Linked DNA regions of Homo sapiens. The protein of the gene in region 1 interacts with the protein of each later gene in a biochemical or structural test. Each region holds a gene or a part of one and is shown in the gene's direction. Other genes may lie near its edges.

Evidence for each region.
Region 2: of the proteins of MAPK9 (region 1) and DUSP10, one has a biochemical effect on the other in vitro, tested with the Homo sapiens proteins (one study listed by IntAct).
Region 3: of the proteins of MAPK9 (region 1) and JDP2, one has a biochemical effect on the other in vitro, tested with the Homo sapiens proteins (one study listed by BioGRID).
Region 4: the proteins of MAPK9 (region 1) and MAPK8IP3 form a complex in vitro, tested with the Homo sapiens proteins (2 studies listed by BioGRID).

Annotation. Positions count from the first base shown.
Region 1 is NC_000005.10:180,281,585-180,289,397, reverse strand, and holds part of MAPK9 (mitogen-activated protein kinase 9), read left to right. Parts: intron 1-2,330; exon of another isoform or gene 2,331-2,423; intron 2,424-7,813. UniProt on the Homo sapiens protein: Serine/threonine-protein kinase involved in various processes such as cell proliferation, differentiation, migration, transformation and programmed cell death.
Region 2 is NC_000001.11:221,738,413-221,747,145, reverse strand, and holds the start of DUSP10 (dual specificity protein phosphatase 10), read left to right. Parts: upstream 1-5,056; 5' UTR 5,057-5,165; intron 5,166-7,358; 5' UTR 7,359-7,401; coding exon 7,402-8,212; intron 8,213-8,733. UniProt on the Homo sapiens protein: Protein phosphatase involved in the inactivation of MAP kinases. Has a specificity for the MAPK11/MAPK12/MAPK13/MAPK14 subfamily. It preferably dephosphorylates p38.
Region 3 is NC_000014.9:75,458,457-75,466,269, forward strand, and holds part of JDP2 (jun dimerization protein 2), read left to right. Parts: intron 1-2,969; coding exon 2,970-3,074; intron 3,075-7,813. UniProt on the Homo sapiens protein: Component of the AP-1 transcription factor that represses transactivation mediated by the Jun family of proteins.
Region 4 is NC_000016.10:1,708,936-1,716,748, forward strand, and holds part of MAPK8IP3 (C-Jun-amino-terminal kinase-interacting protein 3), read left to right. Parts: intron 1-4,593; exon of another isoform or gene 4,594-4,852; intron 4,853-5,066; exon of another isoform or gene 5,067-5,256; intron 5,257-7,813.

The DNA of each region.
Region 1 (7,813 bases):
AGAGTTAAAAACAATACTATTTTTGCATAGACTTCTCTTTTGACAGCTTTGATTTTCCTGGCAATTTAATTTTCAGGGTGCCAGGACTTTAATTTGTTCACAGATTAAAATCTGTTTATTTGGTCCCGTAAATAAACAACAGAGGGGATACTTGAATGTGTCTAAGATAAAATATTCTTAATTTTCTGGATAAAGAAAAGGACCAGACAAACCAGTTAATAGCGAGTAAACCAGTTGTTTTCATGAGGCATAAGATAAAACAGAGACCAGATTTTTTTTCTTCTTGAGACTATTGATTTGCCAATAGGGCAACTATTTTTGGTCTACATACATACAGTAGTTACACCTCACACTTGGTTAGGAAGGTGCCATTTTTACATAATTTTCCTTCAGAATAATTAATTCCTGATACTTTGTACTTGATTGTATGAACCAGTTTCAACATCATTCTTTTTATTTTAACTTTTATTATGGGAACTTTCAAACATATACAAAATAAACAGAATAGTGTCCTGCTTTAACAGTTATTAACTCCTGACCAATCTTGTTTCATCTCTAATGGTATCCACTTGCACCCTTACCACCCATAATTATTTTCAAGCAAATCCTAAATATCATGTCATTTCATTCATTATTTTTTGGGATACTAATTACACAGTGGGTGCCCAGTAAATGTTTGGTAAAGACAAAGCTAAATGGGAGAATAAATGTGGTAGGGTAGCTCGGAGCAGTGGGTAAGATCAGGACTTTGAGTCAGACTCCCAGTGGGTCTGCTGCTTATCTGGGTGATGTGCAGAAGCGATTGCACTCATCTGTAAAACATACGGGCACAACCTCAGGGTGCTCAGGAGGTGTACAGTAGTTATACTTCACACTTCGGTAGGTCTCTAAAGGTACTGACTCTTTTAAAGTTGAAAAAGTAATAATTGCTTAATATCATCAAATAACTAGTCAATATTCAAATTTCCAGCTGCCCCATGAATTTTAGGTTTCCTTAATAGTTTGAAAGTAGAGCAAGAGAAGGCCATACGTTGTTGATTGGATGATACGTCTTTTAAGTTTCTCTTAATCCATAGATCCCCCTCCTATTTCTTTGTTTTCTTGGTAGTTTATTTGTTGAAGCAATCGAGTTGTTCCTTAGCATTTCCATAGTTGGTATTTGATTGATTGCATCTCTGCAGTGTAATTGAATGTGTTTCTCTGTAATCTCTGTAAGTTAGTAATTGGATCTAGACGAGGCTTCGTCAGATTTAGGGTGCATTCCTGCATCAAGATGCCTTCCTAAGTGGGCTGTGCACTTCTTATCTAGAGGTACCCTGAGGCTCTCTGCTCGTCCGTGTTGCAGATGAGTGCAATCGCTTGCTGCACATCACCCAGATAAATAGCAGACCCACTGGGAGTCTGAAGTCAAAGTCCCGATCTTAACCACTGCTCCCAGCTGCCCTACCGCATTTTTTCTCCCATTTAGCTTTGTCTTTAACAAACATTTTTTGGGCACCCACTGTGTAATCAGTAGAGGATTGAGAAATAAATCAGACACATTTTCTGCCCTTACAGAGTAGAAGTGTAAGTAGACTCGGAATGCAATCTAAAGCGAATACTGGGAGGGTGGCAAAAATGGGGGCATGCCCAGCATGGTTTGAAGGGAAAGGCTGGAGGAGGAAACATGTAAGAGAAGCAAGTGCTTGAACTAGATTTTTGAAGGAGGGTGAATGTTGACCAGCAGGTCAAAAAGGGGAGGGAAGTCATTTCAAGCAGATGGAACAGCTTAGGCAGAGGCCTGAAGGTGTGCAGTAGCTGGGTGTGTCCGCTGATCCCAGGTGGTTTGATGTTGCCTAAGATTGGGCCAGAGGACTGCCATCTCCTGTGCTGTGCTAGGGAACTGAATCTTATTCTCCAGGCAGTCAGTCACTGTTGAAGGAGTTCAAATGGGAGAATGGTGTGATCACTGCACACTTTCAACAAATCTCTCTTTTTTCTTTCCATATTTTGAAATAATTATAGATTCACAGGAAGTTGCACAAATGGCACAGAGAGGTCCCAGTACCCTTCCCCCAGCTTTCTCCCACGGTTACATATTTACACAACTGTAGTAAAATGTCTAAACCAGGACATTGGGCATCGGAGCAAGGTGTATAGAGTTCATTGTCATTTTTTATCGTGTGAAAATTCCTATAACCACTACCACAATCAAGATTCAAAACTATGTCATCATCCCAGATATCTCCTTGTCCCACCCCCTTACAGCCACAGCAGCCCCTTTTCCCCACCATTCATAACTGCTGGCAAGTACTAATCTAGTCTGCATCTCTATACTTTTGTCTTTTCAGGAATGTTATATGCATGGAGTTATACAGGATGTGACTTTTTGAGATTGGCTTTTTTCGTTGACTATCCTGCCCCTGAGATCCACCCAAGTTGTGGTATGTTTCAGCAGTTGCTGAGTGGTATTCCATGGTATGGGTATACAGCAGTTAGTTTAACCATTTACCCATTGAAGGACAGGTTTGGGTTGTTTCTAGTTTGGCACTATTAAAAATAAAGCTGCTGTGAACATTTGTGTACATATTCTCACGTGGAGTGATTTCTCTTTCTAAAGTGGCATGTGTGCAGTGGTTCGGAAGTCACAGAAATGGTGGCTGGGAGAATGCTTCTGCTGTCGCTGGTCCAAGGAGCCACGAGAAGCCCTTACCCAGGGCCCTGGGAGTGGGGGATTGAGAGGGAAATAGGCAGGCCTGGGTGCCTGGAAGTGGGGCTGGTGACGGAGATCCTTGCAGGGTCCTATGGATCCAACAGTGGGTGAAGTGATAACCAAATGCTAGTTGTTCTGTATTGTGGTATATACTGTGGCTTAAGAACTACAGAGGATGGCCCTGAGAGCTGCAAGGTTCTTGATTATCAAAGAAAGATTACGTTGTTATACCAAGCTATTCTTCATAAGAATTACAGTAGGAGGCCAGGCGCGGTGGCTCACGCCTGTAATCCCAGCACTTTGGGAGGCTGAGGCGGGCGGATCATAAGGTCAGGAGATCGAGACCATCCTGGCTAACACAGTGAAACCCCATCTCTACTAAAAATACAAAAATTAGCTGGGTGTGCTGGCGGGCGCCTGTAGTCCCAGCTACTTGGGAGGCTGAGGCAGGAGAATGGCGTGAACCTGGGAGGCGGAGCTTGCAGTGAGCCGAGATCATGCCACTGCACTCCAGCCTGGGCGACAGAGCGAGACTCCGTCTCAAAAAAAAAAAAAAAGAAAAGAAAGAATAAAGAATTACAGTAGGAAAATAGAACTTTTTAAATTTTTACTATTTTTTTTTTTTTGAGACGGAGTCTCGCTCTGTCGCCCAGGCTGGAGTGCAATGGTGTGATCTTGGCTCACTGCAAGCTCCGCCTCCCAGGTTCACGCCATTCTCCTGCCTCAGCCTCCCTAGTAGCTGGGACTACAGGCGCCCGCCACCACACCCGGCTAATTTTTTGTATTTTTTTAGTAGAGACGGAGTTTCACCATGTTAGCCAGGATGGTCTCCGTCTCCTGACCTCGTGATCCACACGCCACAGCCTCCCAAAGTGCTGGGATTACAGGTGTGAGCCACCGCACCCGGCCAGATTTTTACTATTATTATTATTATTATTGTTTAATATAGAGTTGAAGCCTCACCATGTTGCCCAGGCTGGTCTGGAACTCTTGGGCTTAAGTGATCCTCCCACCTTCGGCCTCCCACAGTGCTGGGATTACAAGTGTGAGCCATCTTGCCCAGCTGGAAAACAGAACAATTTAATGAAAAAAATGTCGGCAGCAAGCATTGAGACAGAGGGTGATTGTGAGAATCTGCTTTTAATCACAATAGTTAGTTGATTTAAATATCGCATGTCCTGGGTACTCTGAAGCTTTAGTGTGATGAAAGGTTCACTTGAGTCTGTGGATCACTGAATCGTTGTCATCGTTAGAGGAAAAAGTGTTTTGGTAGGTTTTGGTAGGGGGAGTCAGCAAGGTGAAATGTGCAGGACTGTGTGCTGGTCCTGGCCAGCCCATGTGCAAATAGCTTCACTTTCTAAAGGGATATCAGAATGGTGCTTTGGGAGGAACTTGAATATTGTGGTGAAACACTCCTAAATTCAAATCTGAGCCATGCTGGGAATTTGGACAACTTCCTTACTGGACAACTTCCTCTAAGCCTCAGTTTCCTCATTTGCAGAGCGGGGATAGTAATATGCTTCTCACTAGTTGTTATAAGGGTGTTGATAAATGTGTACCTCAGAGCCAGGCCCACTCTCATGCCTCTAGCCTTATCTGCCTGAAGCCCGTCTTCCATACAAGTGTCAAATGATCATTCTGCAGCTTTTCATTTAACATGTGTTGTTTAATCAGTTTTTAAATGTGAAATATGTACATTTGAAAAACAGAATAGAAAGTTATAATGGGAAGAAAGTTTCTCATTTCCCACTATTTCTCTACTTGCCAGCATTGTGTATGTGCGTGTGTATGCGTGTGTGTGTGTTTACGTAGCTGGGCATTATGTGTTCTCTTCTTCAACTTGGTGTATTTCCTTTCTGTATCTTAGACATCTTTCCACATTGATACATAAAGTCCTTGCATTCTGTTGAATGGCCTTGTTGTACTTCTGTGCCATAATTTATTCAGTCCATCCACAGTGTGCATTTTAGATTACTTCTAGTTTTTTGCCTGTTACAAGAAGTGTTACAAACATGCTTGCACAAATATGTTTGGATACTTGTACACGTATTTGTCAGATACACTTAGAGAATTGTGTTTGCCAGTTTAGGATATGCAGTTAACATTTTTATTAGCCAGATCTATATTCCATCTAAAAAAATGTTTTACCACTTCTCAGCTCTCACTGACGTGTATGAAAGTGCCTGTTTCCTCATGCCTCGGTCGATACTGTGAACAAACTTGAGCTCAGGTCTTGCCTCCTCCAGGAAACCTCCTTGTAGCGTTCCCTCCCAGTTTTGAGTTGCTCATAGCCTGGAAGGGAGGCAGACCCTACAAAGGCTGTGACAGTGCAGCCTGGCGGGCGCTGCTGAGTGCACAAGTGGCAAGGAGGGAGCCCTGTGCTGGACGGATGGTGGCAGCACAGCCTGGGAGCTGAGGGGGAGGAACCAGCACCGGCTGGTGTGGGAAGTGGAGGCAGCGAATGCAGGCTTTAGTGTATTGCTAATGTGGTTTCATGAAGAATTCTTGTACTTCCCGATTTGTAAAACTGTTTTCTGAGCCCCAGTTGATGGTCCATTTTGTTGAAATATCATCTCAATAGAGTTGACTCATGAATAGCTAAATTACACACCTTCTCAGGTGGCCTTAAGTTTCTTTCTCTTGCTCTCACAAAGCCCAAACTTGACAGAGAAGGTGGCTTTAACAGGTTTTCACTTAGGTGACTTTTTTCTCCTGCATAATAAGGGTACCTTATTTTAATTTTATAATTATTTTAAATCTTTTTGTTTGTTTGTTTTTGAGATGGAGTCTCGCTGTGGCCCAGGCTGGAGTGGCACGATCTCAGCTCACTGCAATCTCCACCTCCCGGTTCAAATGATTCTCCTGCATCAGCCTCCCAAGTAGCTGGGATTACAGGCACGCACTACCACACCCGGCTAATTTTTGTATTTTTAGTAGAGATGGGGCTTCACCATGTTGGCCAGGCTGTTCTCAAACTCCTGACCTCAAGTGATTCCCCCACGTTGGCCTCCCAAAGTGCTGGGATTACAGGTGTGAGCCACCATGCCCGGACTATTTTAAATCTTGAGATGGAATTACAATTCTAAAACCTAATATGAGTGAATATACTCCCCAAATTTAAAAAAGTTAACCTAATATTGTCATAGTCCAAATATAGGTTGAAAGCAGTTATAGCAGGGAGAGTTGCAGAGTTGGTCAGCAGGGTTGAGATTGATCTGTCAGTCCCAACGTGGACACGGGGTCCTGAATGGGGGGTGGCTCTGTGCCATGAGGTAGTTAAGGAATCCAGCTGGTGGGCAGCTTTCCATCTACAGCATGTGACTTCCATCTCTGGGTCTGTGACAGCTGATCCCTCAGCCAGCAGCAAGGAAGAAAGATTGGAGGGCAAGCAGCTTTCTGTAAAGAAAAATAAAAGTGATCTGGAAGTTGCATACATCACTTCTACCCACATCTTATTAGTCAGAACTTGGTCATCTGGCCATACCTGGCTGCTGGGAAAGCTGCCAGGCGTCGTCTCTAGTTGGGCAGCCATTTATCTAGCAGGAAGGGGAAGGAAGGCTTCTCTTATGAAAGCGAGGAAGGGAGGGATGGATCCTGGAGCACCTCAGCGCCTGTGTCGCACCTCTGATGTTTTGACGGCTTCCACAGCCCTCAGGACTGAGGCCAGACGGCTCTGCGTGGCTTCTGGGGCTCATAGTGATCTGGCCTCCTTTTCTCTCTCCAGCTTCACTCGCCCTCTACCCAGCAAGTCCCTAGTGACTTGTCACATTCCGAATGTGCCTCCGCCTCTGCTGCTTCTCCTCCCATTCCCCCAAATCTTCTTCACCCTACTGGGTTTAGGACCCTTGGTGTGCAGGGCCTCCTCCTGAGTGTGCGCTCACTGAGGGCAGGCGAGTGTCCTGGCATGGTACCTCACCATCCACAGCGGGTGCTCAGTACATGCTTGCAAGTAACTGTGTTGCTGGTGTGTTGACGGCATAGCAGAGGAACAGCCACCCTCCGTAAAGCAGGTGGTAGTGGGTGCCTGCCTTTTTGCTGAGTTGTCTCTAATCCTTTGCACTTGTACCCCGCTAGCCAAGCTCAGCAGTTCGCTGTGTCTGGACACAGTCAGTTTGAGCTCTGTGGCTCTACTGTCCATCTCTGGCAAAAGAGTCTGAGGGCGGATGCCGCCTCCTCCTTGAAGCCGTCCTTGTCTTCTGCCCCTGCCAGTGGGTAGGATCTCTTTTGCCTTTTGATTTTGTTTACATTGTGCTTATGGCCCTTACCGCACTGTGACTTGTAATATAGATAATGGACTCACTGCTCGCGCTTCTCCCCCAAATAGTGAAGTACATGTTGTTTCAAGACTGGTTGCTAGCTGACTATGGCATATCTTTTGCTATACTTACCACTTTCGTGCATAAAGGTACCCCCTAAATGTTGAGTGGAATTGTTTCAGCCTCTTGCAAACTGTAAATAAGCTAATCTTTAGAAAGGATCTTCCTTTAGATATCAGTAAAATGGAGCAGCACTGTGGGGAATCAGATCAACAAAGGTTTATTGAATGCTCACAGTGCCCCAAAGACCAGCTTCCTGTCCTCCTGTCCTTGGAGTATGAGATGCCATGAGCAAGACAGACCTGCCTCGCACCTCCTATAGCTTAGAGCACAGTGACCTGCCAGCCTGGAGAGCTCCTGAGTCCCCTTCTCACAGCAGTGTGGGCTAGGCAGGTGTTCCAGCTCACTCAGCCCTAGATTGCTCCCAGGTAACACGGGACTGAGACTCCTGCGGTGCGGGTTGTATGAGCAGCTGTTTGTCCAGCATCTAAGCGCTGTGGCGTCACTGGAGTCACTCCCTGGCTGGCACGCTAACACACCTCGGCAGGAGTGGTCAGAGTGGCAGCCACACTGCAGCCACCACCCAGAGGACGGGGAGAAGACCGTGGGGCAGTGGTCACTTGGAGAAATTATTAATTTGACTCAGTTCTTTATTTAGACTTGTTATTAATCCATTTTTTCCATGTTTAAGGAAAATCCTAGCATTTGTGTTGAAATATAAATCATCACCACAAAAATCTCATTAGGTTGACGTTAAATATTAGATACTAGAACATAAAGGCAAGGGATTTGACAGAGCTGTAGA
Region 2 (8,733 bases), on another chromosome or scaffold:
AGACATATATCTATCCATAGCTATATCTGCATCTGTCAAGTGTGAAGGTGTGGAGGACAAGATTGTGGTCACAGAGGCTCCACCAGTTCACCCCTGCTCCCATTTCTATTGCCTCCCACTTGCACTGATGTCTTTTACCCTTTGTATATAAAGTTTTCAAGATCCAATGTGTATTTTAATCTTATGGCACATCTTAATTCAGACTAGCCACACTTCGAGTGGCCGACACATGTGTCAAATGACCACCACACTGGAAAATACAGATATAGAGCCTTAAATGGCTCAGAGCCTTTTCCTGAGTCACAAGCACACCTGCCCATGAATTTTGTAGGAAAGAACTGCAGGCCTCTTGTGTCCAAACTCATAGATAGTGGGACAAGCACATGGCCCTGCCTCTGTTTCCATCATTACAGTAGCCACTGTCTTAGTCCAGTTGTGCCGCTATAACAAAATACCTGAGACTGGGGAAGTTGTAAGGAACAGAAATTTATTGCTCACATGAGTTCTGGAGGCTGGGAAGTCCAAGATCAAGGTGCCATCTGCAGGTTCACTGCCTGGTGAGGGTCCAATCTCTGATTTCAAGATAGCACCTTGTTGCTGTGTCCCCACAGGGGAATGGAAGAAAACTAACTCACTCCCTGAAGCCCTTTTGTAATGGCCCTAATCCCTTCCATGAGGCCTCTGCCCTCATGACTTAACCACCTCCAAAAGGCCTCATCTCTTAATAGTGTCACACTGGTGATTAAGTTTCAACATGTATTTTGGGGGAACATTCAAACCATAGCAGCTCCTTCCTTCAGGGAACACTTCTTATCAGCCCTTCCCTAGGCCTGGAGAGTGTTGCTGGATGTTTTGCCAGGCTGGTCTCAATGACCTCAAACACTTACCATGCCACTTTCCTATTCCTCAGCTTATTCCCCACTCCTTCTGGTATAATATCATCTTTATCCTGGATGATTTTTAAGTTTTCTCCAAGCCATTCTCTGCCTTAATTCTAGTACCTCCAGAAATCTATCTTGACCTTGAGGATTATTTTGAAGGCCCCACCTTCTGCCATTACCCCACACACTTAACCATTTAAGTGCACAAAAAAGAAGTAATTTAATTAATACATTTGCTAAATACTATCCATATTATATCTTATATGTTGGCCTAAGTTATTGTCATCTTTTGACTTTAATACATAGTACTTCAGCTGAAACAGTCAATATTTTTCTTATGATGTTTGTGGGAACAAAGATATGCTCAATACAATCATGTTACAACATCCAGACTGAATGAAGATGCTTCACTCTTTCTTTGGGACTGAAACTAACATTAACGCTCTGCTGCTGGTTATTGATATACAGATCAGATTTGTAGCCATTGGCTGACTAGCATTACGAATTTAAGTCTCAGGGCATTATATTTCAGTGTAGTATTTTCACATTTATCGCTCAAAAACAGGAATAAAATCACTTCTTCTTGTCCAAAAGATGTTCTGAAGAGTAGTGAATGGAAAAAAATTCCATCTATAATCTGATTTTTTTCACCAGTCTTATGACTTGAATATAAACTTAGAGATGCCTAACTTAAAAAATAACTACAACTTTGCTTATATTCATAATCTGGTAATTATTCCACATTTCAGGCTTGATATATGATAAGGAATTTTGCCATCTTTCCCAATGTTTCAGCCTGGATGGCTTAGATTCTTAGTCAACTAAATTATAATAATCTACTACTTTGAAACTATAATAAAACAATCATCTCATTACAAGAGTTACATTTCTTCTTGAAATTACTTTTCCATTTTGGGCCTTGTGGGAAAAGCTGTTAAGAACTCTTCTGCAATTGTATAAATCTATACTTTGGGCTTAGATGTTGAGGCATTAGAAATGAATTCATCATTTATAGATCATATATACCTTTAAAGATAGGCACCTTATTTCCTAAAGCAAGTAAATTAATTTTTTTTTCCACTGAATGCCTTTTATCAGCAGGGGATCTTTTTTCCCCCCTGAGCGCTTGAATGAGTTCCCTTTTTCTTCTGAGTTGGGGTATTACCATTCTATGGATAAATGAAGACAGAGACTGGATGAACAGATATAACAGATAGAGTCAGAATCAGAACTTAGAACTCTCAAACTCTGAGTTAATGAAAAATTTTCCCATAATTGTCTATGTTTAGGGAAAGGTAAGCTTTCAGCCTTCCAGCTCCAGATAGATCAAGGGTAGAACCTCTGGGAAGTTCTTTTCTGATTTGTATAGAAATTACCCAGAACCCAAGTTTCCTGACCATAACCTGTTGATCTTCAAACATTTAAGAACCAAATGGTGTGCCCTAAGCACTCTGCTATTATCAGGAGGGTGAATTGACGTGTGTGTTGGTGTGTGGATGGAGAGAGGTGTAAACCAAAAATAAAATTCTAAGCACCCCCCACGCCCCACCCCCTGCCCACCCCGCCTTCCCAGGCAACCCTCTGAACGGACTAATTTGTCAACCAGGGCTCTTGTAAAATTTATCCTGAAAGACTGGTTCAGGCCATGAAGGGATGTGAGGGTGGGACGTGCCCCATTCATTATATATCAACCAACGGACTAATTTCTCAACCCAGGCTCCTGTAAAATTTATCCTGAAAGACTGGTTCAGGCCATGAGGGGAAGTGAGGGTGGGATGAGCCCTGTTATATATCAACATGGAGTTCAAGTCTGATAAGAAACATTTTACAACCTATTGTCTCTGAACCTGCTGCCTGGAGACTTCATCTGCATAATAAAACTTTGGTCCCCACAAGCTCTTATCTTAACCCATACGTTCCTTTCTTTGATCTCAGGTCTTTAGACAAACTCAACCAATTGTCAACCAGAAAATGTTTAAATTTACCTATAGCCTGAAAGCCCACCCGCTCCTTAGAGTTGTCCAGCCTTTTTGGACCAAACCAATGTATTTCTTAAATGTATTTGATTGATGTCTCATGCCTCCCTAAAATGTATAAAACCAAGCTGGACCCCAACCACCTTGGGCACGTGCTCAGGACCTCCTGAGGGCTGTGTCACAGGCCATGGTCACTCATATTTGGCTCAGAATAAATCTCTTCAAATATTTTACAGAGTTTGACTATTTTCGACAACAGACGTTACACAAAATCCTCTCCTATGTAAGACTATCGGATGTGTACGTGATGCCCGTCGTAACACTGGTGTGAAAAGCTGGACTGGGGGGTATGTGCCTGCATGTAAGTGGAGGTGCCCAAGGGGATTTCTCTTCACAGCTCATTGAGCATAGCTGACTTGCTAGCTATGGTCTGACACCTCCTGATTTCAGATCTGCCCTGAAAACAATTACATGAATATGCCCCTGCTACTCAGTATACTACTAGGCTTGGAGTCTGAAGTAGACCTCCAAACCCCATCCAATCAGGTAAGGGAGAAAAACGATAGCCCAACATTCCCTAGTGCTCATAATGTATTATTCCATTATTTCACTTTTTATCCCTTCTCTCACAGATAAGAAAAGAAAAAGCTCTACTTCTTTAGGGTTCTTGGACGTAGACTCTCCACAGTTCATCTGGGGTTGTTCATCTCCACTTCTTTTTGTATCCCAGGGCAACTTTCCTGCAGTTTCCCTAATGAGAATATTTTCCGGACTAGGCAAGGGGCGGCTTGCCCCGCCCCCTACTCTTCTCCCTGATCAGGAGCTGCGGCCAGCTACCTGGCGCCGGCCAAAGTCAGGGGAGCGGGGAGAGGCGGCGTCACCTCCTCCACGCTCCTCCGGCCCCATTCAATCTAGCTATTTGCACTCGGCTCTGGCTCTTTTCCGCCAGCTGCGGCTGTTCCAGAAGCGCCGGGCTGCCGGTCCTGGCCTCGGCAGGGGCCGTGCGGGACCGAGGGGTGGCGGCCGAGGCATGTGGGGCGGGTGGGTTGCGCGCTGCTGGCACGGCGCGGGGACCCAGCGCGCCAGGCGGGAAAGGGGGGCGGCGGCGGGCGGGGACCCAGACCCGGAGGGGCAGCGGGCGCGTAGCGGGCCCCAGGACGCCCGGCCAGGGGATTGGCCTCTGCACCGCTGCTCAGGGCGCGTCCCTTGCCGCCTCTGGCGTCGACTCAAGCCTCCTCCTCCGAGCAGCCCTCAGTGGCGCCGCCTTAGTGCTCTGGGTCGAGCCCCGGGAGGGTTAGCCTGGGGACGGCAGGGGCGTGACCGTGGCGCGGAAGTAGGTGAGCAGCAGGGCGGCGCGCGGCGGTCAGGCCGGGACAGCCAGAGGGGCAGCGACATCTGCGGGCGGGCGGGCGGGAGGCGGACGCTTCCCGGGCGGAGCAGGGCCCTCCGGAGGACGCAGGCCGCGTCGAGGCTGAAGGGCCTCCCTGTCCGGGACGGTCAGCTGCCAAGTTCGGGCCCTTAGCGCGTGGCCCCGGGCCGCGGCTCGGAGCGGAAGCGTCGCCCCTGGCTGCGCGCTCATGCTGGTCCTAGCGCAGAAGACCCGGCGAGGTCCGCGAATTTTGGCTTAGCGTTTGTCAAGTCACCTCGAGCGACTCGGAGAGAACCCGGCTTTCCCACTAGGGACGGTGATCGCAGTCTCTTTCCTTTAGAAAGTTACTCCGATACTTTTGATCATCTGTCCATAGTAAGGAGGAAAAATAGCGTGGTTTGTCCCCGGGTGAGGGAGTGTTGGAGGATCCCGTCCAGTGGGAAGAGCCAGTTTTAGCGGAGCAGCGCGTCCAGCCCGCTGACACTTCAGCCTGGTAAAGGGTTAACTGCATCCTGCCGGTTCGGTTTACATGTAAATAGAGAGCAGCTGCTCCGCGCGGCCCCGGCTGGCTCTTTTAAGTTTTTGATTGGTTGCCAATGACATCACCGCCCGTGTTTTAACACCGAGGACCCAGAGCAGCTTCGGATAAACCCTCCTTAAAGAGATGAGGCCACGCCTTCTTACCCGCCCCCTAGGCTGCCCATTGGTCGCGGGGCTCTGTGAGGTAGCGGTCGGCTTTCTCCGGATTCTTATTGGCCCAACCCGCCGTCGGTCGGCGGCGAGTCCGCCCCCTCAGAACCTTACATTTACAGTGTAGCAAAAGAGAAAGTAACTATGTTGCTGCTGGAGATCAATGAAGCCGAGTGAATGGGGGCTGAATGTGCGAGTCCATAGCTGAAGAGGAGCGCCAGATGGTGGAGGAATACACTTATTTATGAAGTAAGTGGAAGTCACCGCGACTACTCCTGAGAGCCCGGGACTGGAGGTGGAGGATTGTAAGGCGGTGCTTGTGTGAGTGTGAGTGTGTGTGTTTGTGTGTGTGTATCTGTGTGTGTGTGAGAGAGAGACAGAGACAGAAAGATAGAGATGCGATGCTGACGGAGGAGCTACAGCAGGTAGGGTTATAAGGTTCCGGCCGTTGGCTCCTGCTACCCTGTGCGTTTACTCCCTGCAGTCTACTTGGATTTGGGGCGAAGAAAAAATGAGGTTTGTTGGGATGCTTTGCGGCAGTTTTAAATGCTCGGGGCTCATTAGTGCGCTGTGTGCCGAGGAGTGAAGCGGGGGGCGGGGGGATGTTAAGTGCTCCAGGAATGGGGAAGAAGCATTCTCTAACCACTTAATTTTCTCTCCAGCTCTTGCCTAGTGGTGGAAGGGAGAGGGGATAGCTCAGTATTTCTCTGGGAGATTTTCTGGGCCAGACTGGATGGTTTCACGGGCAGTATGTACGCCCGACCCTCTGCTGCAGGGATGCAGGTCTCTCTATACACTCCGTGTGTGTGTGTGTGAGCCTTGAACTCTGTGTGGAGGTGGGGGTCCCAGCGCGTGTCTCTGTGAACACGCTTATGCGTCCCTCTCAGAAGAAATGGTATGTTGATCCTGGACGTGTCCTACCAGGTAACACAATAGCAAAGACTTTCACCGCTTGGTCCAACCGGGAAACAGTTATAGCTTCTGGAATAGAACTCGCTCTTCAGAAAAAATACTACGCAAGGGAAGGGGGGTTGACTCCTTCGCTCCCATCCAAAGGTGGGTGAGAGAAACCCGAGTCGTTGGAGATCTGCCGACGTGATGGGTGCGTGCCCCGTGTGCGCGCGTGAGTGTGGATTCCGCCTGTGACACTTTGGTTCTGTGTCAGAGAATGGTGACGGTCGTGTGTAGACGGATGAGAATGGTGACGGTCGTGTGTAGACGGATGATAGATGGCATTTTTCCTGATAGCTCTTAAAGTTCGTTTAGGTGAGCGTCTCTTGGCGTGGGGTTTGGCGTCTTTGCTATGTGCATGTCTAATAGAAGAAGAAGAGTTAGCAAGCCTGAGTTGTAGAGTGCCCCTGTGCCTACAGGAGGAAGGAGCTGTCTTTTTGCAGACACTCTGAAATCAGAGATAGATCCGGTGGGCAACAATTCACTGTCCCTTTCAACGAGTACAGGCTAATTGGGAGGTCCTCTTTACGGAATCAGTACTCTTGAAGGGGGGATATCTGTATGGGATTGAAACCTTATACAACGTGGCTGCCTCCCATTGAGAGAAGCTCTAGGATGCACAGTCTGTGCCAGCCAGGGAGATGAAGAGGGGAGGAGAGCCCAAGTTGTCCTTTCCAGGCAGGAATGAGGGCGGGGGCAGGTGAGAGAGCAAAGGGTGAGGGATTTGCCGGGGCTGGGGTTTCCAGGTTTCCAGATCTGGCTCCATGGCTTGAGATTTCGTTTTAGGACACCAGTTAGTAGTGAAAAGGGGAAATGCAGATTAATTTATAAGAGGCCAAAAGACAACATGTGAGGTTTTAGTATGACTATGTTGTGCTTTTCAAAGGACCCCAATAGAGAATGGAAGGCAAGAATAGCTCCAAGTTAAAGAGATTCACTTAAGGGGATTTGCAGAAAGTTGACATCCACCCTGATGTATATTTAGCTGCTGTACCTTTCTGTGAACCATGCCAGTGCTCTTGGTTACCCCTTTGCCTTTGCAGCGAGTGAGGGAATTAAATGGCAAGCATGCAAGGGTGGACAAATGGGTCTTTCTCAGATGTTTGCAGTGTACTTCTGCCCGAGAGCTGAGGTTCAGAATAGATGCCTCTTAAGAGCCTCCCTTCTGTCTTCAGCTTTTCTAATTATTTGTGCTTATACCTTCTCTACAGCTGAACTTTTATGTAGGTCCAGGAAAGGTTGTTCATTAACATTTACAACATTACATCCAAATTTAACCTTAGACTTAGCAACCAAATTGATTGGAGCCCTCAGGTTTGCATCCTCTTTGAATACATAAAAATGAATTTCAAGTTTTGATAATGGTATGATAAAGGGCAATTAGGACGACTTTGCTCAGAGGGATGCAAAGGTCTTTCCCAGGGATTGGATGAGACTGCCTTTTGTGTCACGTGACTTTATTCTTTCTTTCCCCCTTCCCCTTCTTTACAGACTGTCTTGAGTTCTTCTTGAATTGCCAGTTTTCAGCCTCCTCATGCCTCCGTCTCCTTTAGACGACAGGGTAGTAGTGGCACTATCTAGGCCCGTCCGACCTCAGGATCTCAACCTTTGTTTAGACTCTAGTTACCTTGGCTCTGCCAACCCAGGCAGTAACAGCCACCCTCCTGTCATCGCCACCACCGTTGTGTCCCTCAAGGCTGCGAATCTGACGTATATGCCCTCATCCAGCGGCTCTGCCCGCTCGCTGAATTGTGGATGCAGCAGTGCCAGCTGCTGCACTGTGGCAACCTACGACAAGGACAATCAGGCCCAAACCCAAGCCATTGCCGCTGGCACCACCACCACTGCCATCGGAACCTCTACCACCTGCCCTGCTAACCAGATGGTCAACAATAATGAGAATACAGGCTCTCTAAGTCCATCAAGTGGGGTGGGCAGCCCTGTGTCAGGGACCCCCAAGCAGCTAGCCAGCATCAAAATAATCTACCCCAATGACTTGGCAAAGAAGATGACCAAATGCAGCAAGAGTCACCTGCCGAGTCAGGGCCCTGTCATCATTGACTGCAGGCCCTTCATGGAGTACAACAAGAGTCACATCCAAGGAGCTGTCCACATTAACTGTGCCGATAAGATCAGCCGGCGGAGACTGCAGCAGGGCAAGATCACTGTCCTAGACTTGATTTCCTGTAGGGAAGGCAAGGACTCTTTCAAGAGGATCTTTTCCAAAGAAATTATAGTTTATGATGAGAATACCAATGAACCAAGCCGAGTGATGCCCTCCCAGCCACTTCACATAGTCCTCGAGTCCCTGAAGAGAGAAGGCAAAGAACCTCTGGTGTTGAAAGGTAATGCCCCTGCTCCCTTCCCAAGCACGGTCCTGATTAGCCGGGTTCACTTTGGGTTTTCTCGTAGAGTGACAGCATTCTCCTTACCCTGGCTACCAAAGACCAAAATAGACTTTATTCTTCTCTTCCCTTCTATGCTCTTTATTGTTTTGGTTTAGTAAGAAAAACCCAGCAGCACTGAACTGGAAGCCAGAAGATCTGGGTTCTACCCTTCATTTGGGTTCTAATTTGCATTGTGCAAGTCATTTCACCTCTCTGGGACTGTTTTCTCATCTTTCTAAAAAGGGGCTTTATACACACCAGATGGTATCTCAAGTCATGCCTGGTCTGCTAGCTCTATTCCAATCAATCACTAGTTGGAAAGTTATTGTCTCTCAGACTTAACCAATGTTGATGGAACAGAGGAAGGAGCAACTATGGTGAACTACAAGTAAACCTACAGGTACCAGTTCTTACTGTGGGAAATTCTTTCTCTTTCTCACCTTTCTGACCAGCTTGACTTTTATGTGGTTTATAAAGTG
Region 3 (7,813 bases), on another chromosome or scaffold:
TAATAACCTGAGCTCCATCTATGTTCCCGCAAAGGACATGATCCTGTTCCTTTTTATGGCTGCATAATATTCTATTGTGTAATATGTACCACATTTTCTTTATCCAGTCTATCATTGAGCATTCAGGTTGATTCTGTGTCTTTGCTATTGTGAACAGTGCTGCAATGAAAATACACATGCCTGTGTCTTTATGGTAGAATGATTTATATTCCTTGGGGTATATACTCAGGAATGAGATTGCTGGATTGAATAGTATTTCTGTTTTTAGCTAAAAGCAGCTGATTCTATCTGGGGAGTCAAAGGACCCTTCCTGGAGGAGGTGATGTTTACTCTCGAGGTTCAGTTAAGAGTTTACCAAGTGGGAAAGGAAGGATATCTCACTCAAGGCTGAGAGGGCCTGGCTGGCTTGGAGAAGGGTGAGACATTTGGACTAGAGGGTGATGCAGGAGGGGATGAACGTGGCTGGAGAGGGGAGGAGGAGCGGCCCCTGACCTGGGCCTCAGCCTGGCCCAGTTGATCTCTTAAACTTTCTTCCAGCTCTGAATCTTTTTGCATTGCTGCTAAAGCAGCTTCTGTCTGCTTCTGACTTTCTGTGGAATAAGGCCCTGTGCAGGATGGGGGTAGGGATTGAAGCCTTGGAGGGCAGAGGTTGGTTGCTCAGGGGAGGACACAAGGCCTTGCAGTACCCAGGCTGCACACATCACCTTGGCAGTTTGTGGGCAAACCCTCCTGGCCGAAGGGAGATTGCACCGCCAGCCACTTCCTCCAGTTCCTTCCCTCTGCCTGTCGTCACGGTTACCTTGGCCTTGTTGGGGGTGAGGTTAAGGTTGGGCGGAATCAATTTCAGCCAGGTTTCTATTTTCCCAGATGCAGGTCAGCCAGAGGAGCTGTCACTTCTGGTTCAGTTTCAAAGAAGGCCAAGGGACTGGGAGGTGCTTGGGTGTGGCGGTGTTGACGAGGCGCCTCTGCAGCTGACTCCCAGGTGGGGTGGGAGTGGGGCAGGGAGAAGCTCAGAGGTGGTGAGGAGGCAGAAAGGGGGCTGCCCTGCCAAGGCCTGTGCCGATGGCCATGGTGCTGGTCTCGGGCCCAGGCGCTCTGTCCTGAGCCCCCAGAGCATGCTGGGAGTGTGCAGAGAGAGGCTGTTTATTTTCCTGGCCTATAGCCCTTTGGGCTGAGACCTTGTTCCAGGCCTTGGGCTGCCAGAGTCACCCCCCACACCCTCCTCCCTGGCTGGAGAAGTGAGAGAGTTGGCAAGCCCAGGACAATCCAACGGCTTCTCTAATGGCCTATGACTCTGGTCTGTCCCCAGCCCAGCTGGTCCTGGGTGTCCTTCAGATTTTCCTGGTAGATCACCTACCAGGTAGGTAGGCAAGAGGCAGCAAGAGGTGCCACATCAAAGTGCTCCTGATGGACTGGGGCTGTAAGGGCTGGTGGTCAGGAGCAGGGTGCTTGAAACCAGAGAAATCTGAGTTTGAATCCTAATCTGCTATTTTGTAGTTGTATGGCCTTGGGCAAATTGAACTATTGAGCCTCAGTCTCACCATCTGTAAAATGGTACAGTAATAGTAACTTCCTCATAAGACTTTGATGGTGAGGATTAAATGACATGTGTTTAAAGCATTTATCAAAGTAGGCAACAAATGGCACCTCTTGTTATTATTACTAATGGAGCAATAACAACAGCAACTTTGATTCGAAGTCTGTGCTAGTGGGCAGTGAGTCTCCTTCTCCCCCATTCCAGGGGTCGTATTTCACGCATGGTGAGTTTATTAACATGTCCTGAGGGAGAAGCAAGCCCGGAGGCTCAGGAGGCCCCTTGCTTGTTCCCCAGGGTCCTTCAGCTCTCCCACAGGTGGGCATCCTGGGGGAAAGGATTAAAGCCAGATGAGGAGGCTGGGGAGACTGTTAGTGACAAGAGGAAATGGATCCCAGCATTTGGAAAGGGCCAAGAAAGGAACATTGGGTATGGAGGAGCGGGGAAGATCTTAAATCCCAACAGAAGGTAAGAGGAGAGGACAAAGATAGTCAAGGAGGTGGGAAGGTGGCAGTGGAATGTGGAACCTGTGTCCATGCCCAAGACGTTTTTAAAGGAAGTGCCTGGGAACCACTGGCCTGGAAAATTGTACCCAGAGGGCTTGGGCTGGGCAAAAGAAAAGGTCGTCACCGCCCGTTGGGTGCCACCTCTGTGTGAGTAGATTTGCCAGGCTCCTGGCCTCCTGAACTCCTCATCTGGCTTTAATCCTTTTCTCTGCTTTTGCATATTCTTCCCCCAGAATGTCCACCTGTGGGAGAGCTGAGGGACCCTGGGGGCAGAAGCGAGGGGCTTCCTGAGTCTCTGGGCTTGCTTCTCCCTCAGGACATCTGAACCTGGATATCTGTCTTAGTCCATTTTGTGTTACTATCACAGAATACCACCAACTGAGTAATTTATAAAGAAAAGAAATTTATTTCTCACAGTTCTGGAGGTTGTGAAGTCCAATATCAAGGTACTGGTGTCTTGTGAGGGCCTTCTTGCTGCATCATCCTAGGGCAGAAGGTGGGAAAGCAAGAGAGTACAAGACAGCAAGAAAGGGCCAAATTTCCTTTTATAACAAATCCCCTTTTCTAATAACAACATTAATCCATTCATTAATATTGTTACTAACCACCTCTTAAAGGTGTCACCTCTCAACACTGTTGCATTGGGGATTAAGTTTCTAACACTTGAAGTTTGGGAGACACATTCAAACCAGAGCAGAATCCCTGCCCGTTTGGGCTACTGACTCCTCCCTGGGATGCTCTGAGAGGATCCTTGGACTGGCTGGGAGGTATTTCCAACTCTCCAGGCAGTGGGCTGGCAGAAGTGATCACTTGTTCACTGCCGAGATGTGGGTTAGAAAGGCGAAGTTGTCCCTCTGTCTATGTGTCAGGACAGAAACTGTACTCCAAGCCTGCCTCAGTGTCTAATCAGTGGCTCTGTGCCCTCACAGCTAGATGAGGAAGAGGAGCGAAGGAAAAGGCGCCGGGAGAAGAACAAAGTCGCAGCAGCCCGATGCCGGAACAAGAAGAAGGAGCGCACGGAGTTTCTGCAGCGGGTGAGCTGACCGGGTGGGTGGGGAGGCCTGCCATTCCTTGGAGTGAGCTTGTGTACTCTGGACCAGGAGAGGCCATCAGATGTCTCTGTAGTCAATGAGCATCTGCTGGCAGCTGCCAAAGCAGCCTTGGCCCCTCTGCTCTTTCCTACCTCCTGTTTCCTCCCCAATCTCTGAACCAAGACAACCAAGGGCAGCCTTCAGCAGTTCCTGCCCACACAACCCCTGGAAGCCCAAGAAGGAAGGAGGAGCCAAATTCCCCTCCACTGAGGTTAGACCCTTGGTGCTGATTGACCCAGATGGCCCAGGACTGCCACTATCTATTTTGGTTCCCTGGTGGCTACCAAAGTCGTCTAGGGTGGGTGCCAATGAAGCTAGGTAGTAACATCCTGCATGTGGGCACTGGACACAGCCTCTGGCCTGGCTAACTTTGCACAGAGAAAAGCTCCTTCCCTTAGCTGCAGGTGTCTTATCCAGCCCTGCATGCCATCTGGCCAGCCCCTCAGCTCCACTGAAGGTGACCTCCAAGCTCTTTGCTGCTACCTCTGGGAATAAGAGGTCAGCTCTGCATGTAGAGGTCAGCCAGGGGTTGCTTTTCCTCCTGGCCCTACCTGCCCTTTCATTTGGAATGTGCCAAGCAGGATGTTTGTTCTTTTTCTCCCAAGTCCTGCCTCTCAGAGCTTCCCTGCATCTCAGAAATGGTGGCTGGCAGTGAGGGAACATGACCAGAAAGCTAATCAGTGCAGGCCAGGAGTCTCTGGTCTTTCCACCCCTAATCATTGGTTCTTTGCTGAATAATAATAACGATAATGTATAATAATAACATAGGGGCGGGTCCTATTCTGTAAGTACACAGTAACTAACAATAGTTGCCACTATTTGTAAAGTTGGGTGCTGTGCTGAATGCTGTATGTACATTATCTCATTTTATTGGGATAATAACCATATGAAGTGGGTACCTTCATTAGTCTCTTTCTACAGATAAGGAAACTAAGGAAGTGTGGGGCTGAGTAATTTGCCCACATCTCTGCTATATTGGCATTCATTCATTTGTTTGCTCTTTTGTTCATTAATTGATTCAACGGGTATTTTTAAGCATGTACTAAATGTGCATCCGTGTGTTGGGTACACTGGGGGCACACAGGAAGCAGCAGACACGGTCCTCCTGTGGGAGCTGGAGAGACAAGGCTAGATTGGCCTGGTGTTTTTGGACTCTGGAGGGTCTATGGGCATCTTCTCACACTTGCAACAAGCAGAGAGCTATTCTGTGGTCATGGGTGTAGACAGCATGGGGCCGTGTATCTACCTCCAGGCTGTGAGTGTCCAGTGCAGGGAATGGTTATTGTAGATTAGAGTTAGATTCCTGGATCTGGGAGCCCGTTGGAAGAGATGGTGCTACAACATTGGGCTGGGAATCTTCAGGAAGTTTCTAAGACACGAGCCTTCAAGATGGATGAAGTGCCACATACCTCATTTCCAGCACCAAGTGCCTGCCATGAGCAGAGCTGGATGAGAAAGCAGGGACTAGAGAAGCTTCACGTGAGATCCCTGCCTTCAAGAGCTTGTCAGCCAGTTACCAGGCAAGATACGCCCTAGCGGACAGCATGTTAGTGACACACCAGTGCAATAAAGAGTTGGTGCCCAATGAATGGCACTCACTGCCCATCACATTCCAGGAACACTAGCTGAGCACCTACTGTGTGCCAGGCATTTCCCATGTTTTATTTAATCCTTATAATATTCCAGTGAGATAATATTATTTATCCCCATTTTAGAGACTGACCTGTAGCTCAGAGAGGTCAAGTTACTTGGCCAAGGTCACACTGCTAGCGAGTGGTGGGCTTGGATGTATTCATCCTTTGCTGATCCACCCGTCCATTTAGTAGGTGTTTAGTGAGTGCCTAGGGCACAGAGGGCAGGCAGGCGGTGTCGGCAGTGGGATGGGAGGCAGGAAACAAGGAAAGTGACGTGTGCCGAGCGTTATGTTGGGCAAGCCTAGCCAGCTGTGAGAACACACAGCAGGGGCCCTGTCCTGGTCTAGGCTAAGGAAAGGCTGCTTCAATTCAGACATAAAAGAGGAGTAGGAGCAGTGAGATGGAGGCCCTAGGGGGTTATGAGGAATGGAAGGGTTCAAGCAAAGGCAAAAGGTGCTGTTTAAGGATGTGTTTAAGGCATTGAAAAGGATACCAGCTGGAGTTTAGAGTACCAAGTAGTGGGGTGGAGAGGCAGGCAGGGCCCAGATCCCTCATAATAGGGTGATGCTAGATGCTGGGTTGCCTGAGGCATGCCCATTCTGTGCCTGTTGTCCTGGCCTAATGATTAGTAGCCCCTTCCTTCACTCTCACAAGTGCTGCTCTAGGATGATGAATTATATGGTCATGGAGAGTCACTGAAGGGCTGCAGGAGGGGAGACGCACACCTTCAAAAGATCCCTCTGGCGGCAATGTGGGGCACAGATTGAGGTAGAAGGATCAGTTTTGGAAGTGTCATGTTGTTCCAGTGAGACAGAAGTGCGCGGCCTTGGGGTCTGGGAGGAGATTTGGGCAGCATTGTCTGGGCCCAAGCCCAGTCCTCCCCTCACCCCTGTGTTCTCCTCCTCCTCCCCAGCCTTGGAAGCAGAGGTTTGGTGTGAAGTTTAGGGCATGAATGCAGGCGGCTGTGTTGACAGTCAGTGCCTGCAGACCTGGGGGATTCTCTTGTAGTTTATTTTTAATAGGTAAAATACAAGGCTCAGAGATACATATGTTAATTGTTAATAAATAGTAATTATTTAAGTAAGGGGATATATACAGTTGGGACAAATATCTACAGGCGGCCTTTCATAGCCAAGGGTTCTGCAGCTGTGATTTGACCAACAGTAGATCAAAAGTATTCAGAAAAAAAAGCATCTGTACTGTTTATTCCCTAAACAATGCAGCATAGCAGCTATTTACATAGCATTTACATCGTATTAGTCATTATAAGTAACCTAGAGATGATTTAAAGTATACGGGAGATGTGTATAGGTGATATCCAAATAACACGCCATTTTATGTAAGAAACTTGAGCATCCTCGGATTTTGGTATCCTCGGGGAGTCCTGGGACCAGTCGCCCATGGCTACTGAGAGACAACTGTATATATGTCATAGGTAAAAAGCCACCGTCCCACCCTTGACCCCTGGACAACCAGATCCACACCTGGAAGATTCTTAACTGCATCTCAGAGTTCGCCTGCCTAGACTAGCCGAGGCCCTGAACCCCGGGGAAGGGGCAGGCCTTGGGAGGGGTCAGGTCCACACCCCACAGGCCCTGGGGCTGCCTCAGTACATCCTCCATCTGCGGTCAGGAGCAGTGGCCCTGAGGCTTCTGCCTTGTATAATGCTGGCAGCTTCTGTCTCTCTGCTGTCCTAACCCAGGTTCTCTAGATGTTAGTAGCAATAATGCTATCTCACACTCCCGTGGTGCCCTCTGGTCTTCATAGCCACTCTCTCCTGATGGTCACAGTGGCCCTGGGAAGAGGAAAGGCAGTCCTATCCATTGATGAAGTTCAAGGTCACCCAGTGGCCGAGTCAGGACGAGAACCTGGGGCTTCCTCTGTGCCCCACACAATATTCAGGTTGCCCAGACTCAAAAGAAATTAGGAAACTCGTTTGTGGAAGCATAGCTAGCAAGTAGCAGAGTCAGGATTTTAATCCAGACAGGTCTTTCAGGCTCAAAGGGGCATATCAGGCTGCTTCTCAGCTCTTACAAAAACTTAGTGGAAATCTATTTTATATGCCTTAGAATAGCTTTTTAAAAAATATAGATTCAGATGGTCTTTTGTTGTTGCTGTTGCTGTTTTTGAGACAGAGTCTCACTTTGTCACCCAGGCTGGAGTGCAGTAGCATAGTCATAGCTCACTGCAGCCTTGTACTCCCAGGCTCAAGTGATCCTCCCACCTCAGCCTCCTGAGTAGCTGGGACTACAAGCACACGACCATGCCTGGCTAATTTTCTGTTTTTTTGTAGAGACCGGGGCTCCCTGTGTTGCCTAGGCTGGTCTTGAACTCCTGGACACAAGTGATCCTCCTACCTCGGCCTCCCAAAGTTCTGGGATTACAGGTGTGAGCCACCATGCCCAGCCAATTCAAACAATCTTAATGCTTAAAGTCCCCTGGGCCAATCATCATATTTTCTGGGAGGAAACTGAGGCCCAGAGAGAGGAAGTGACGTGGCCAAGTTCACACAGCCAGGATTAAAAGCCAGGACACCCAGCCCTTCACCTTGTATTCTTTCTACTGCCTTTGCCGACCACAGTGTAGGAGGCAGAACCTTAATATGCACTAATTCTATTCTAAAACAACAAATGGTTTCATTTTCTCTGGGGCAATAAATATCTAACAGAAGTCAAAACAATAAACAAAAATGCAGCCGGAGGTATATGCTTCATAATTAATGTGAGAAAGATCTTCGCTCAGTTCCTTCATTAATTAGGAAAACAAATTAGATAATTGTTGTTATAAAGTCACAAACCACTTCTACAATCATGGTTTAAAAAAAAAAGATTCTTCTGAACTCAACTTATATTTACACAATAAATAAATATGTAGAGCCAACTAATAACTCTTTGAGTGTGGAAGGCAGTAAAACTAAAAGGCAGTTAGTTACATTCTGGCTGGGCGCGGTGGCTCATGCCTGTAATCCCAGCACTTTGGGAGGCCGAGGCAGGCAGATCACTTGAGGCCAAGAGTTTGAGACCAGCCTGGCTAACATAGTGAAACCCT
Region 4 (7,813 bases), on another chromosome or scaffold:
TCTTTTCTAGGCAGGGACTTGTGATCACATAGACGTGTGTCTGATAAGAGGGGAGCGGGACGTCACACGCTGCAGGCGTGTCTTGTTGCAGAGGAGCTCCTGGGTGAGCTGTCAGCAGAAGCTCCGTCCCCAGCCACTCTGCTCAAGAAGGCTTAGTCAGAGATGGGTAACCTGAGCCACTGCAGCTTCTGAGCAGACAGAATCCGCAGGGTTTTATAAAAACCTGAGCAGAGCAGACATCCCTGTTCCCATCTTCTTGCCGGTCATTACCACAGTGACTCCCAATGTGCTCTGATAACAGGCAGCTGAGTGTATGAGAGTGACAGGAGCTAGAGAGGGTGGGGTCTCCCGAGAGACTGACCCAAGCCGTGGAGTCTGCAGACCCCAGCCTGAGTGTCAGCCCGGCCCTCAGGAGCCACACACCCTGGGTCCATCCTCTTCCCCTCGCTGGGCTGCAGTGGCCGCGGACTTTGCAAGTCAGTTTCATCTCAAGATCCAAGCACCATCACTGGCTGTTGGTTGCCTGGAGAATTGTGGGCAGGCAGATGTAGCAGAGTCAGGGCAGAACCCTTGACGGGTTCTCAGGGCCGCCGTGGACGGCAGGCACCGGACATTGCTAGCCGCCTACCAGACAGTGCAGTTTCTGGTTGTGCAGGCTCTGATACAAAGTTTTTTAAAACCCTCAAGTTATTTCCCAGTGGAAAAGAAGAAGGTGGGAAACAGCAGCTGAACGGGGTGGGGGCTGGCAAGGAGCAGATGCTGCCTCCACACGCACCGTCCGGTGCAGCTCCAGAGGAGGGCCGGGCAGAGCCACCACGTTTGCCGGGCTTACCCGGGCAGCAAAGAGCCCTTCTCCCATAGTGATCAACTGCTTAGCTTACAAGAGGAAAAATAAGGTGTGAGAGATGACATGTGAATATTAGTGGTCATTATTTGCCTTAAAATCTTCTTAACCCTAAAGAAACTGCTGCTGGTAACACCCCCCAGGCTCATGGCAGGCAGCTGGAGTGGGTGTTCTCTCAACAAGCCCAGATGGTGATGTTTGCTGATCATTCGGCATTTGATGCTATGTAAGGAAAGGATGCAAGGGAAGACAGTTTTATCCAAAACTTATTTTTTCCGAGTTAAATAAAAGTTACCGGCCAGGCGCAGCGACTCTCACATGTGTAATCCCAGCACTTTGGGAGGCTGAGGCAGGCGAGAGATGAGGTCACGCTATGTTGCCCAGGCTGGTCTCAAACTCCTGGACTCAAGCAATCCTCCCACCTCAGCCTCCCAACATTTGACATTGAACTCCTGACCTCCTCATCTCAGGTCAGGAGTTTGAGACCAGCCTGGCGAACCTGGCGAAACCCTGTCTCTACTAAAGAAAAAAAAAAGAAAAAAAAATTAGCCAGGTGTGGCGGCAGGCCCCTGTAGTCCCAGCACTCGGGAGGCTGAGGCAGGAGAATCACTTGAACCCAGGAGGCAGATGTTGTGGTGAACCAAGATCATACCACTGCACTCCAGCCTGGGCAACAAGAGTGAGACTCTGTCTCAAAATAAATAAATAGATAAAAATAAATAAATAAATGTCATCCATTTCATAGACTATTTGGGTAGGATTCAGCTGGAGAAAACAAACACCATAATCCCGCTCTACAGAGATGATCAGTCTGCCATTTTTCCTTCTTTTTTTCTCCTCTGCGCCAGACGATCTGCAGGAAGTCTTTTCCATCAATGAATTAAGATGCTGAATCAGAAATTTTTATTTTTGTTTTTCATATGACAAATAGTAAATCCACCACTGCTTGGCCAGAGTATGCGATTTCTTTTCCTGCCATGTTATGATATTAAGAACAGTTTTTTAAAAAATGTTTTTTAAATGAAGCTATCAAGATGGGGCTGCCAGAGCTGCCTTTCCTAGGTGCCTCTGAAAGCTGGCCTGGTGTAGCTGTACCACTCACCAGGAGTACAGCAGTCTCCCTAAAAAGTGGAGCAAATACATGTAGGAACCATGGAGAAGGAGGTACCTGCCAGCCAGAGAGAACACGGGACAGAGGCCGAAGTGGCCCGGAGGCCGCTGGGCGCAGCCTGCCCCTCTGCCGCTCCGCTGCGGGAGCCCCCGGGCCACGCTGGCAGCAGTCAGACAGGGCCGAGAGCTGAGAGAAGTCAGTTCTTCCAAAATTAAGATTTCTAAATGAAATATCTGTTTCATTTTTACGTTTTTAAAAACCATTTTGAAATATGTACAGAAAGGTTGCAGAATTAACACTCCTCACCCAGCTTCCCAAGTGCAGGCGTCTTCCCACGCTGCTTTCTCTGGCTGTGTAAGGGGCTCAGGGGTCCCTGTGTCCTTGTTGTGTCCTGTGTTCTGCGGTGGCCCCTCGTTCTCTGCTCTTATTGACCTTGACCATTGCGACAACACAGTTCAGTCACTTTGCAGCTGTGCCTCAGTCTGGCTCATGGGCCCTGGGGACCAGATATGGAGCATGTCCTCAGGCCTCAGCAGGAAGACCCATGGCATGCAGAGCCTCCTAGATCCTTAATCTGTGCCAGATGGGCATCAGGTGAGGGGCACAAGATTTTTGGATGGGCCCCTTTCCCAGGTTCCCATTTATTACCAGGGCTGGAGGATGAGCTGTTAGTGCATGAAAATCACTACAGAAGCTTGCCCAGGAGCTGCATGGGGTGCCGGCTCTCCGGACTTGTTTTCCTTTGCCCTGTTGAAAGTTGGGGTCCCAACGCTGGGCGCAGTGGCTCACGCCCGTAATCCCAACACTTTGAAAGGCCGAGGCGGGTGGATCATGAGGTAAGGAGTTCGAGACCAGCCTGGCCAATATGGTGAAACCCCGTCTCTACTAAAAATACAAAAATTAGCTGGGCATGGTGATGCACACCTGTACTCCCAGCTACTTGGAAGGCTGAAGCAGGAGAATCGCTTGAACACAGGAGGTAGAGCTTGCAGTGAGCCGAGATTGCAACGCTACTGCACTCCAGCCTGGGCAATTGAGGGAGACTCCGTCTCAAAAAAAAAAAAAAAGAAAAAAAAAGAAAACTGAGGTCCCGAGCTCCCCTTGTCACCCCAAGTATCTAGCCGCCACTAGGTCCTGGTGTTCTTTTGGCCTCAGGAGTTCTTTTTTTTTTTTTTTTTTTTTCTTTTTTGAGATGGAGTCTCGCTCTGTCACCCATGCTGGAGTACAGTGGCGCAATCTCGGCTCACTGCAAGCTCCACCTCCCAGGTTTATGCCATTCTTCTGCCTCAGCCTCCCGAGTAGCTGAGACTACAGGTGCCCGCCAACACGCCCGGCTAATTTTTTGTATTTTTAGTAGAGATGGGGTTTCACCGTGTTAGCCAGGATGGTCTCGATCTGCTGACCTCGTGATCCACCCATCTCGGCCTCCCAAAGTGCTGGGATTACAGGCATGAGCCATCGCGCCCGGCCAGCCTCAGGAGTTCTTTAATGTCCCCACTTTTCATCTCCTTTGCTGCCTTCTGCTTCCAGTCACCACCATCCCAGGGTCTCCCGGCCACTCCCACCGCCGCCACTTTGCCAGCCCAGAGAACCCTCACAAAGCATATCTGGTCTCTGAGTGCTAGGGTGAATTCCAGGCAGGGGGATTAGCTGATTGCTCTCCTGGGGCAGACTGGACATCTCAGGTGGTGATAACATGAGGGGATCTGAGTGACAAGGTGGGCCAGGACACTGGGTGGACAGAGTGAGGCTGTCTTCCCCAGGTGGCCCCCCACTGGGCCCACCTCTCACCAGCCTCATCTGCCTCTGGTCTTCTGGCTGCCCCCCATTCTGCAGACCTGCAGTTCCTGCCTCCTAGACCACCTGCCCCCACCCCTCCCTCGGGGTTTATCTGGCTAGTTCCCGTCTCTGCCGGATTCGCTGGTGTCTGCCTCCGCAGTGCACCTGCAGAGAAGCCCCCATCACCCACTCTGCCGCCCCTGCCTGGGGAGCTGGGCCCCCACCAGGCCTCTCTCCCGGCTTCCGCAAGTTAAGCTGCTCCCTGCCAACAAGGGGCCGGCACCCTTTGGTTCATTCAGCCTGAGCCTGTTGTTTCCTTTTCTCGGCACACCCGGAGATGCTGGCCATCTGTGTGTGTGGATAAAGGGAAGCCGGCTTTCCTCTGTCTCTGCACACATCTCACCAAACTGTGCAGTTCCGGAAGGTCAAGGACTGTCTCTTTGGAGCAGCCTTTCTGACAGAACGTTCTGGGATGATGGAAATGTTGTATTTGGTGCTGTCCACTTCAGTAGCTGCTGGCCACATAGGGCCGTTGAGCATTTTAGGCATGACTCATGGAACTGAGGAACTGGATTTTTAGTTGTATTTACTTGTTTCGGAGATGAGGTCTCGCCACGTTGCCCAGGCTGGTCTCAAACTTCTGGACCGAAGCAATCCTCCCATCTCAGCCTCCCGAATAGCTGGGACTACAGGCTCGTGCCACCATGCCCGGCTGTGTTTTATTTTAATTAATGTAAACATGTGGCCAGGGCTTCCATACTGGACAGTGTGGCTGTGGGCAGTCTAGCTGAGCTGCCTGGAAGCAAGGGCAGATGGTGAGTTACTCAGCTTCATGCAAGAAAGGAAGATGCTTAAAGGGTGGGTTTGTTTCCTGTTTAATGAACATTTTCCAGAAAGAGGGGAGATCCCGTAGCAGTGGGTTTCAGATACAGGAGACCAGACAGGAGAAAATATTGTGAGATGGGAAAGTGGATGCCAGCAACAGGAAACAGCAGAGAGGGGCTGAAGTTCTCGAAAGGCCAAGAAGAGCCTGGTGGGAAACCGCTCGCACCTCAGGACTGCCTGTGCTCAGGGCACAGGATCGACTTTTTCGCCTTGGGCTGCTTTTTGTTTTCTTTCTGTGGGTAACAATTTTATTGCAGTATCATTGACATACACTGAACTGTACATACTTAAAGAGTACAATTTGATGAGTTTTGAAATACGTATAAACACCAGAAGCCATCCCTGCAGTCCAAGCAGCGTAGACGCCCGGACCCCAGAGTTCCCTGTGTCCTATGTAATCCCCCTCCGACCCCTCCTTGCCCCACCTGTCCCCAGGTAACCACTGACCTGCCTTCAGTCACTGTAGGTTAATTTGCATCTTCTAGAGCTTTGCATAATGGCCTCCTGCAGTGCGTACGTGGTTTCCTCTGACATCTTCCACTCGGTACAGTGATTCGGGGACTCACCCAGGCTGTGTGTGTCCTTCCCCCATGGCCAAGCAGGGTCCCAGCAGTGCCGTTTGTCCATCCGCCTGCCTGCAGGGGAGCTGGGCGGCTTGTTTTTACGTAACCTTCACGCATGAGCGGTTTGTAAGCCCGCTCACCCCGTTGGCAGGGTGTTGGGCCAAGCACTGCTCTGGGGCAGGCTGGCAGTGAAACCCAGAGACTAGAATCCGCTTATGAGGGGGGTGCGTCTTTGCGGAGACCCTTAGAGCCCACAGCATCATTACTCTGGTGCATTTTCTTTTGAGCCACTGTTACGGCAAGAGATCCAGGGCGTGCCACGTGAAACGCGACAGGGCCTTTCCTCAAGACCTCTCCTCCGTGTGGTGCGTTTCTCACACAGGGTCTAGGACATTTCAATTCTTGTTATCAACAACCAGATTCAAAACTTGCCTTTTGTTAAAGTTTCGGGGGGCCCCTTCCTCCCCAGGCCTCTGGGGAGTTTGGGGCTCCTGTTCCCTAACCTTTCCTCAGCCAGCCTGCCCATCACCTTTCCTTCTCCCCAGGAAATGAATTCCCAGATATACGCACAGTCCCAGTGGGCCCTTGCACACGTGTGTCTCTATGTCCCTGCCTCGGGTTAGAGCATTCATGTTTTGAGAGCAGGGACCCTTTGGCTACTGAGAAGAGTGAACTGAGGCACGGTTAGCAGGCCTCTCGTTCAGTGGAACCAGAGGGAGTCGGAGGTTGGGGCTGATTAGGAAGTTTCAGAAGCCAATGTAAACTCCTAAGAATGCACCAGAGAATAAAAGTTTACTTGAGAATAATTTTTCCCAGGGAGATGTTTCATAGGATGGGACACTTAACTTGAGGTTTTGGTTTTATCTTCATTTTTCTTCCGCTGGTACCAACCATATAAATTTATATATATATTTCCCAATACAAATGTATATGTACTAGTAAGACAGATGGGAAATATATATATATCTATTTCCCATCTGTCTTACCCATTCTTGAAATCAGTTCGTATTCAACCAGTTGGGATTTGTTTTACGTGGACACTGAACCCAGCCATCCCTTTCACAGAACGTGAGGAAGCCTTGCTTTTCAACCTGGTTTTTGGAGTCCCGAGCTAGTGGCCAGCTCTCTCAGCCCCACACGTAATACCTGAATGGAGAAATGTCCTTCCCTCGACCCGTGTCCCGTCCAGCAGGCTTCAGGGGCAGCTTTGTAACTCCAGAGCCACCCCCTGCACGTCCTCTCTCTGCATTTTAGACCTAGGTGGCCAGGCAATTGTGGGAAATGGAAAGAGCTCTGACTGCCCCCTGCCAGCCCAGGGTAACCACAGCCATGCGAGGTCCCTGCCCGTACCTGGGAACTAGCCATGAAGGGCATCTGCCAGGCACGTGCCCGGCACCTGTCTGCCTGCTTAAGATAAAAGACCAAAAATGAGCGTTTTTCCTTTGGAAATTCATACTACACCCTCATTCCCAGGGAAGGAAATAAATTGATCGGTATTGCACAAGAACGAGATCTTTGATTCGTGTCAAGATTCGTTTCTAACCAACCAGCCAGAGCTGAATTGTTTCTCGCTGGTGAGCCTGGCCTAACAAACGTATGAGAGGAGAGGTTTGGATTTTTTTTTTTTTTGAGATGGAGTCTCACTCTGTCGCCTAGGCTGGAGTGCAATGGCGTGATCTCTACTCACTGCAAGCTCTGCCTCCCGGGTTCAAGCGATTCTGCCTCAGCCTCCTGAGTACCTGGGATCACAGGCGCCCACCACCACACCCAGCTGATTTTTTGTATTTTTAGTAGAGATGGGGTTTCACCATGTTCGCTAGGCTGGTCTTGAACTCCTGACCTCACGTGATCTGCCCACCTCAGCCTCCCAAAGTGCTGGGATTTCAGGCGGGAGCCACTGCACCGGCCGAGGTTTGGATTTAATGTATTACTTTACTCAGCAGGAAAGTGTCCATGGGTTGTGAAAGTTACCAAAAGCCTGTTGATCGCCCTGTGAAAGAACTTTCCTGGCCATTGCTCTGACATTCTGAGTCCAGAATACTGTCATCTTGATTTTATATTGGACATTAAAAGTCAGTCACTGCGTTAACTTTGTTTACATATAAAAGGAAGGATGATATCATTCTATGGAATACTGAAAAAACTGGCTTGGATTACTAGATTTTCGAAGACCCTATGCTCTCAGGTCATTTCTTTTTTTTTTTTTTTTTGAGACAGAGTCTCCCTCTGTCATGCAGTGGCGCGATCTCGGCTCACTGCAACCTCTGCCTCCTGAGTTCAAGAGATTCTCCTGCCTCAGCCTCCTGAGTAGCTGGGATTACAGGTACGCACCACCACGCCTGGCTAATTTTGGTATTTTTAGTAGAGATGGGGTTTCACACGTTGGTCAGGCTGGTCTCAAACTCCTGACCTCGTGATCCTCCCACCTCGGCCTCCCAAAATGCTGGGATTACAGGAGTAAGCCACTGTGCCCAGCCAGGTTATTTCAATATGTATCTTGAAATTCACCGAAAATGCTGGGCATGGTGGCTCACGGCTCTAATCCCAGCACTTTGGGAGGCTGAGGTGGGTGGATGACCTGAGGTTAGGAGTTTGAGACCAGCCTGGCCAACATGGCGAAACCCCGTATCT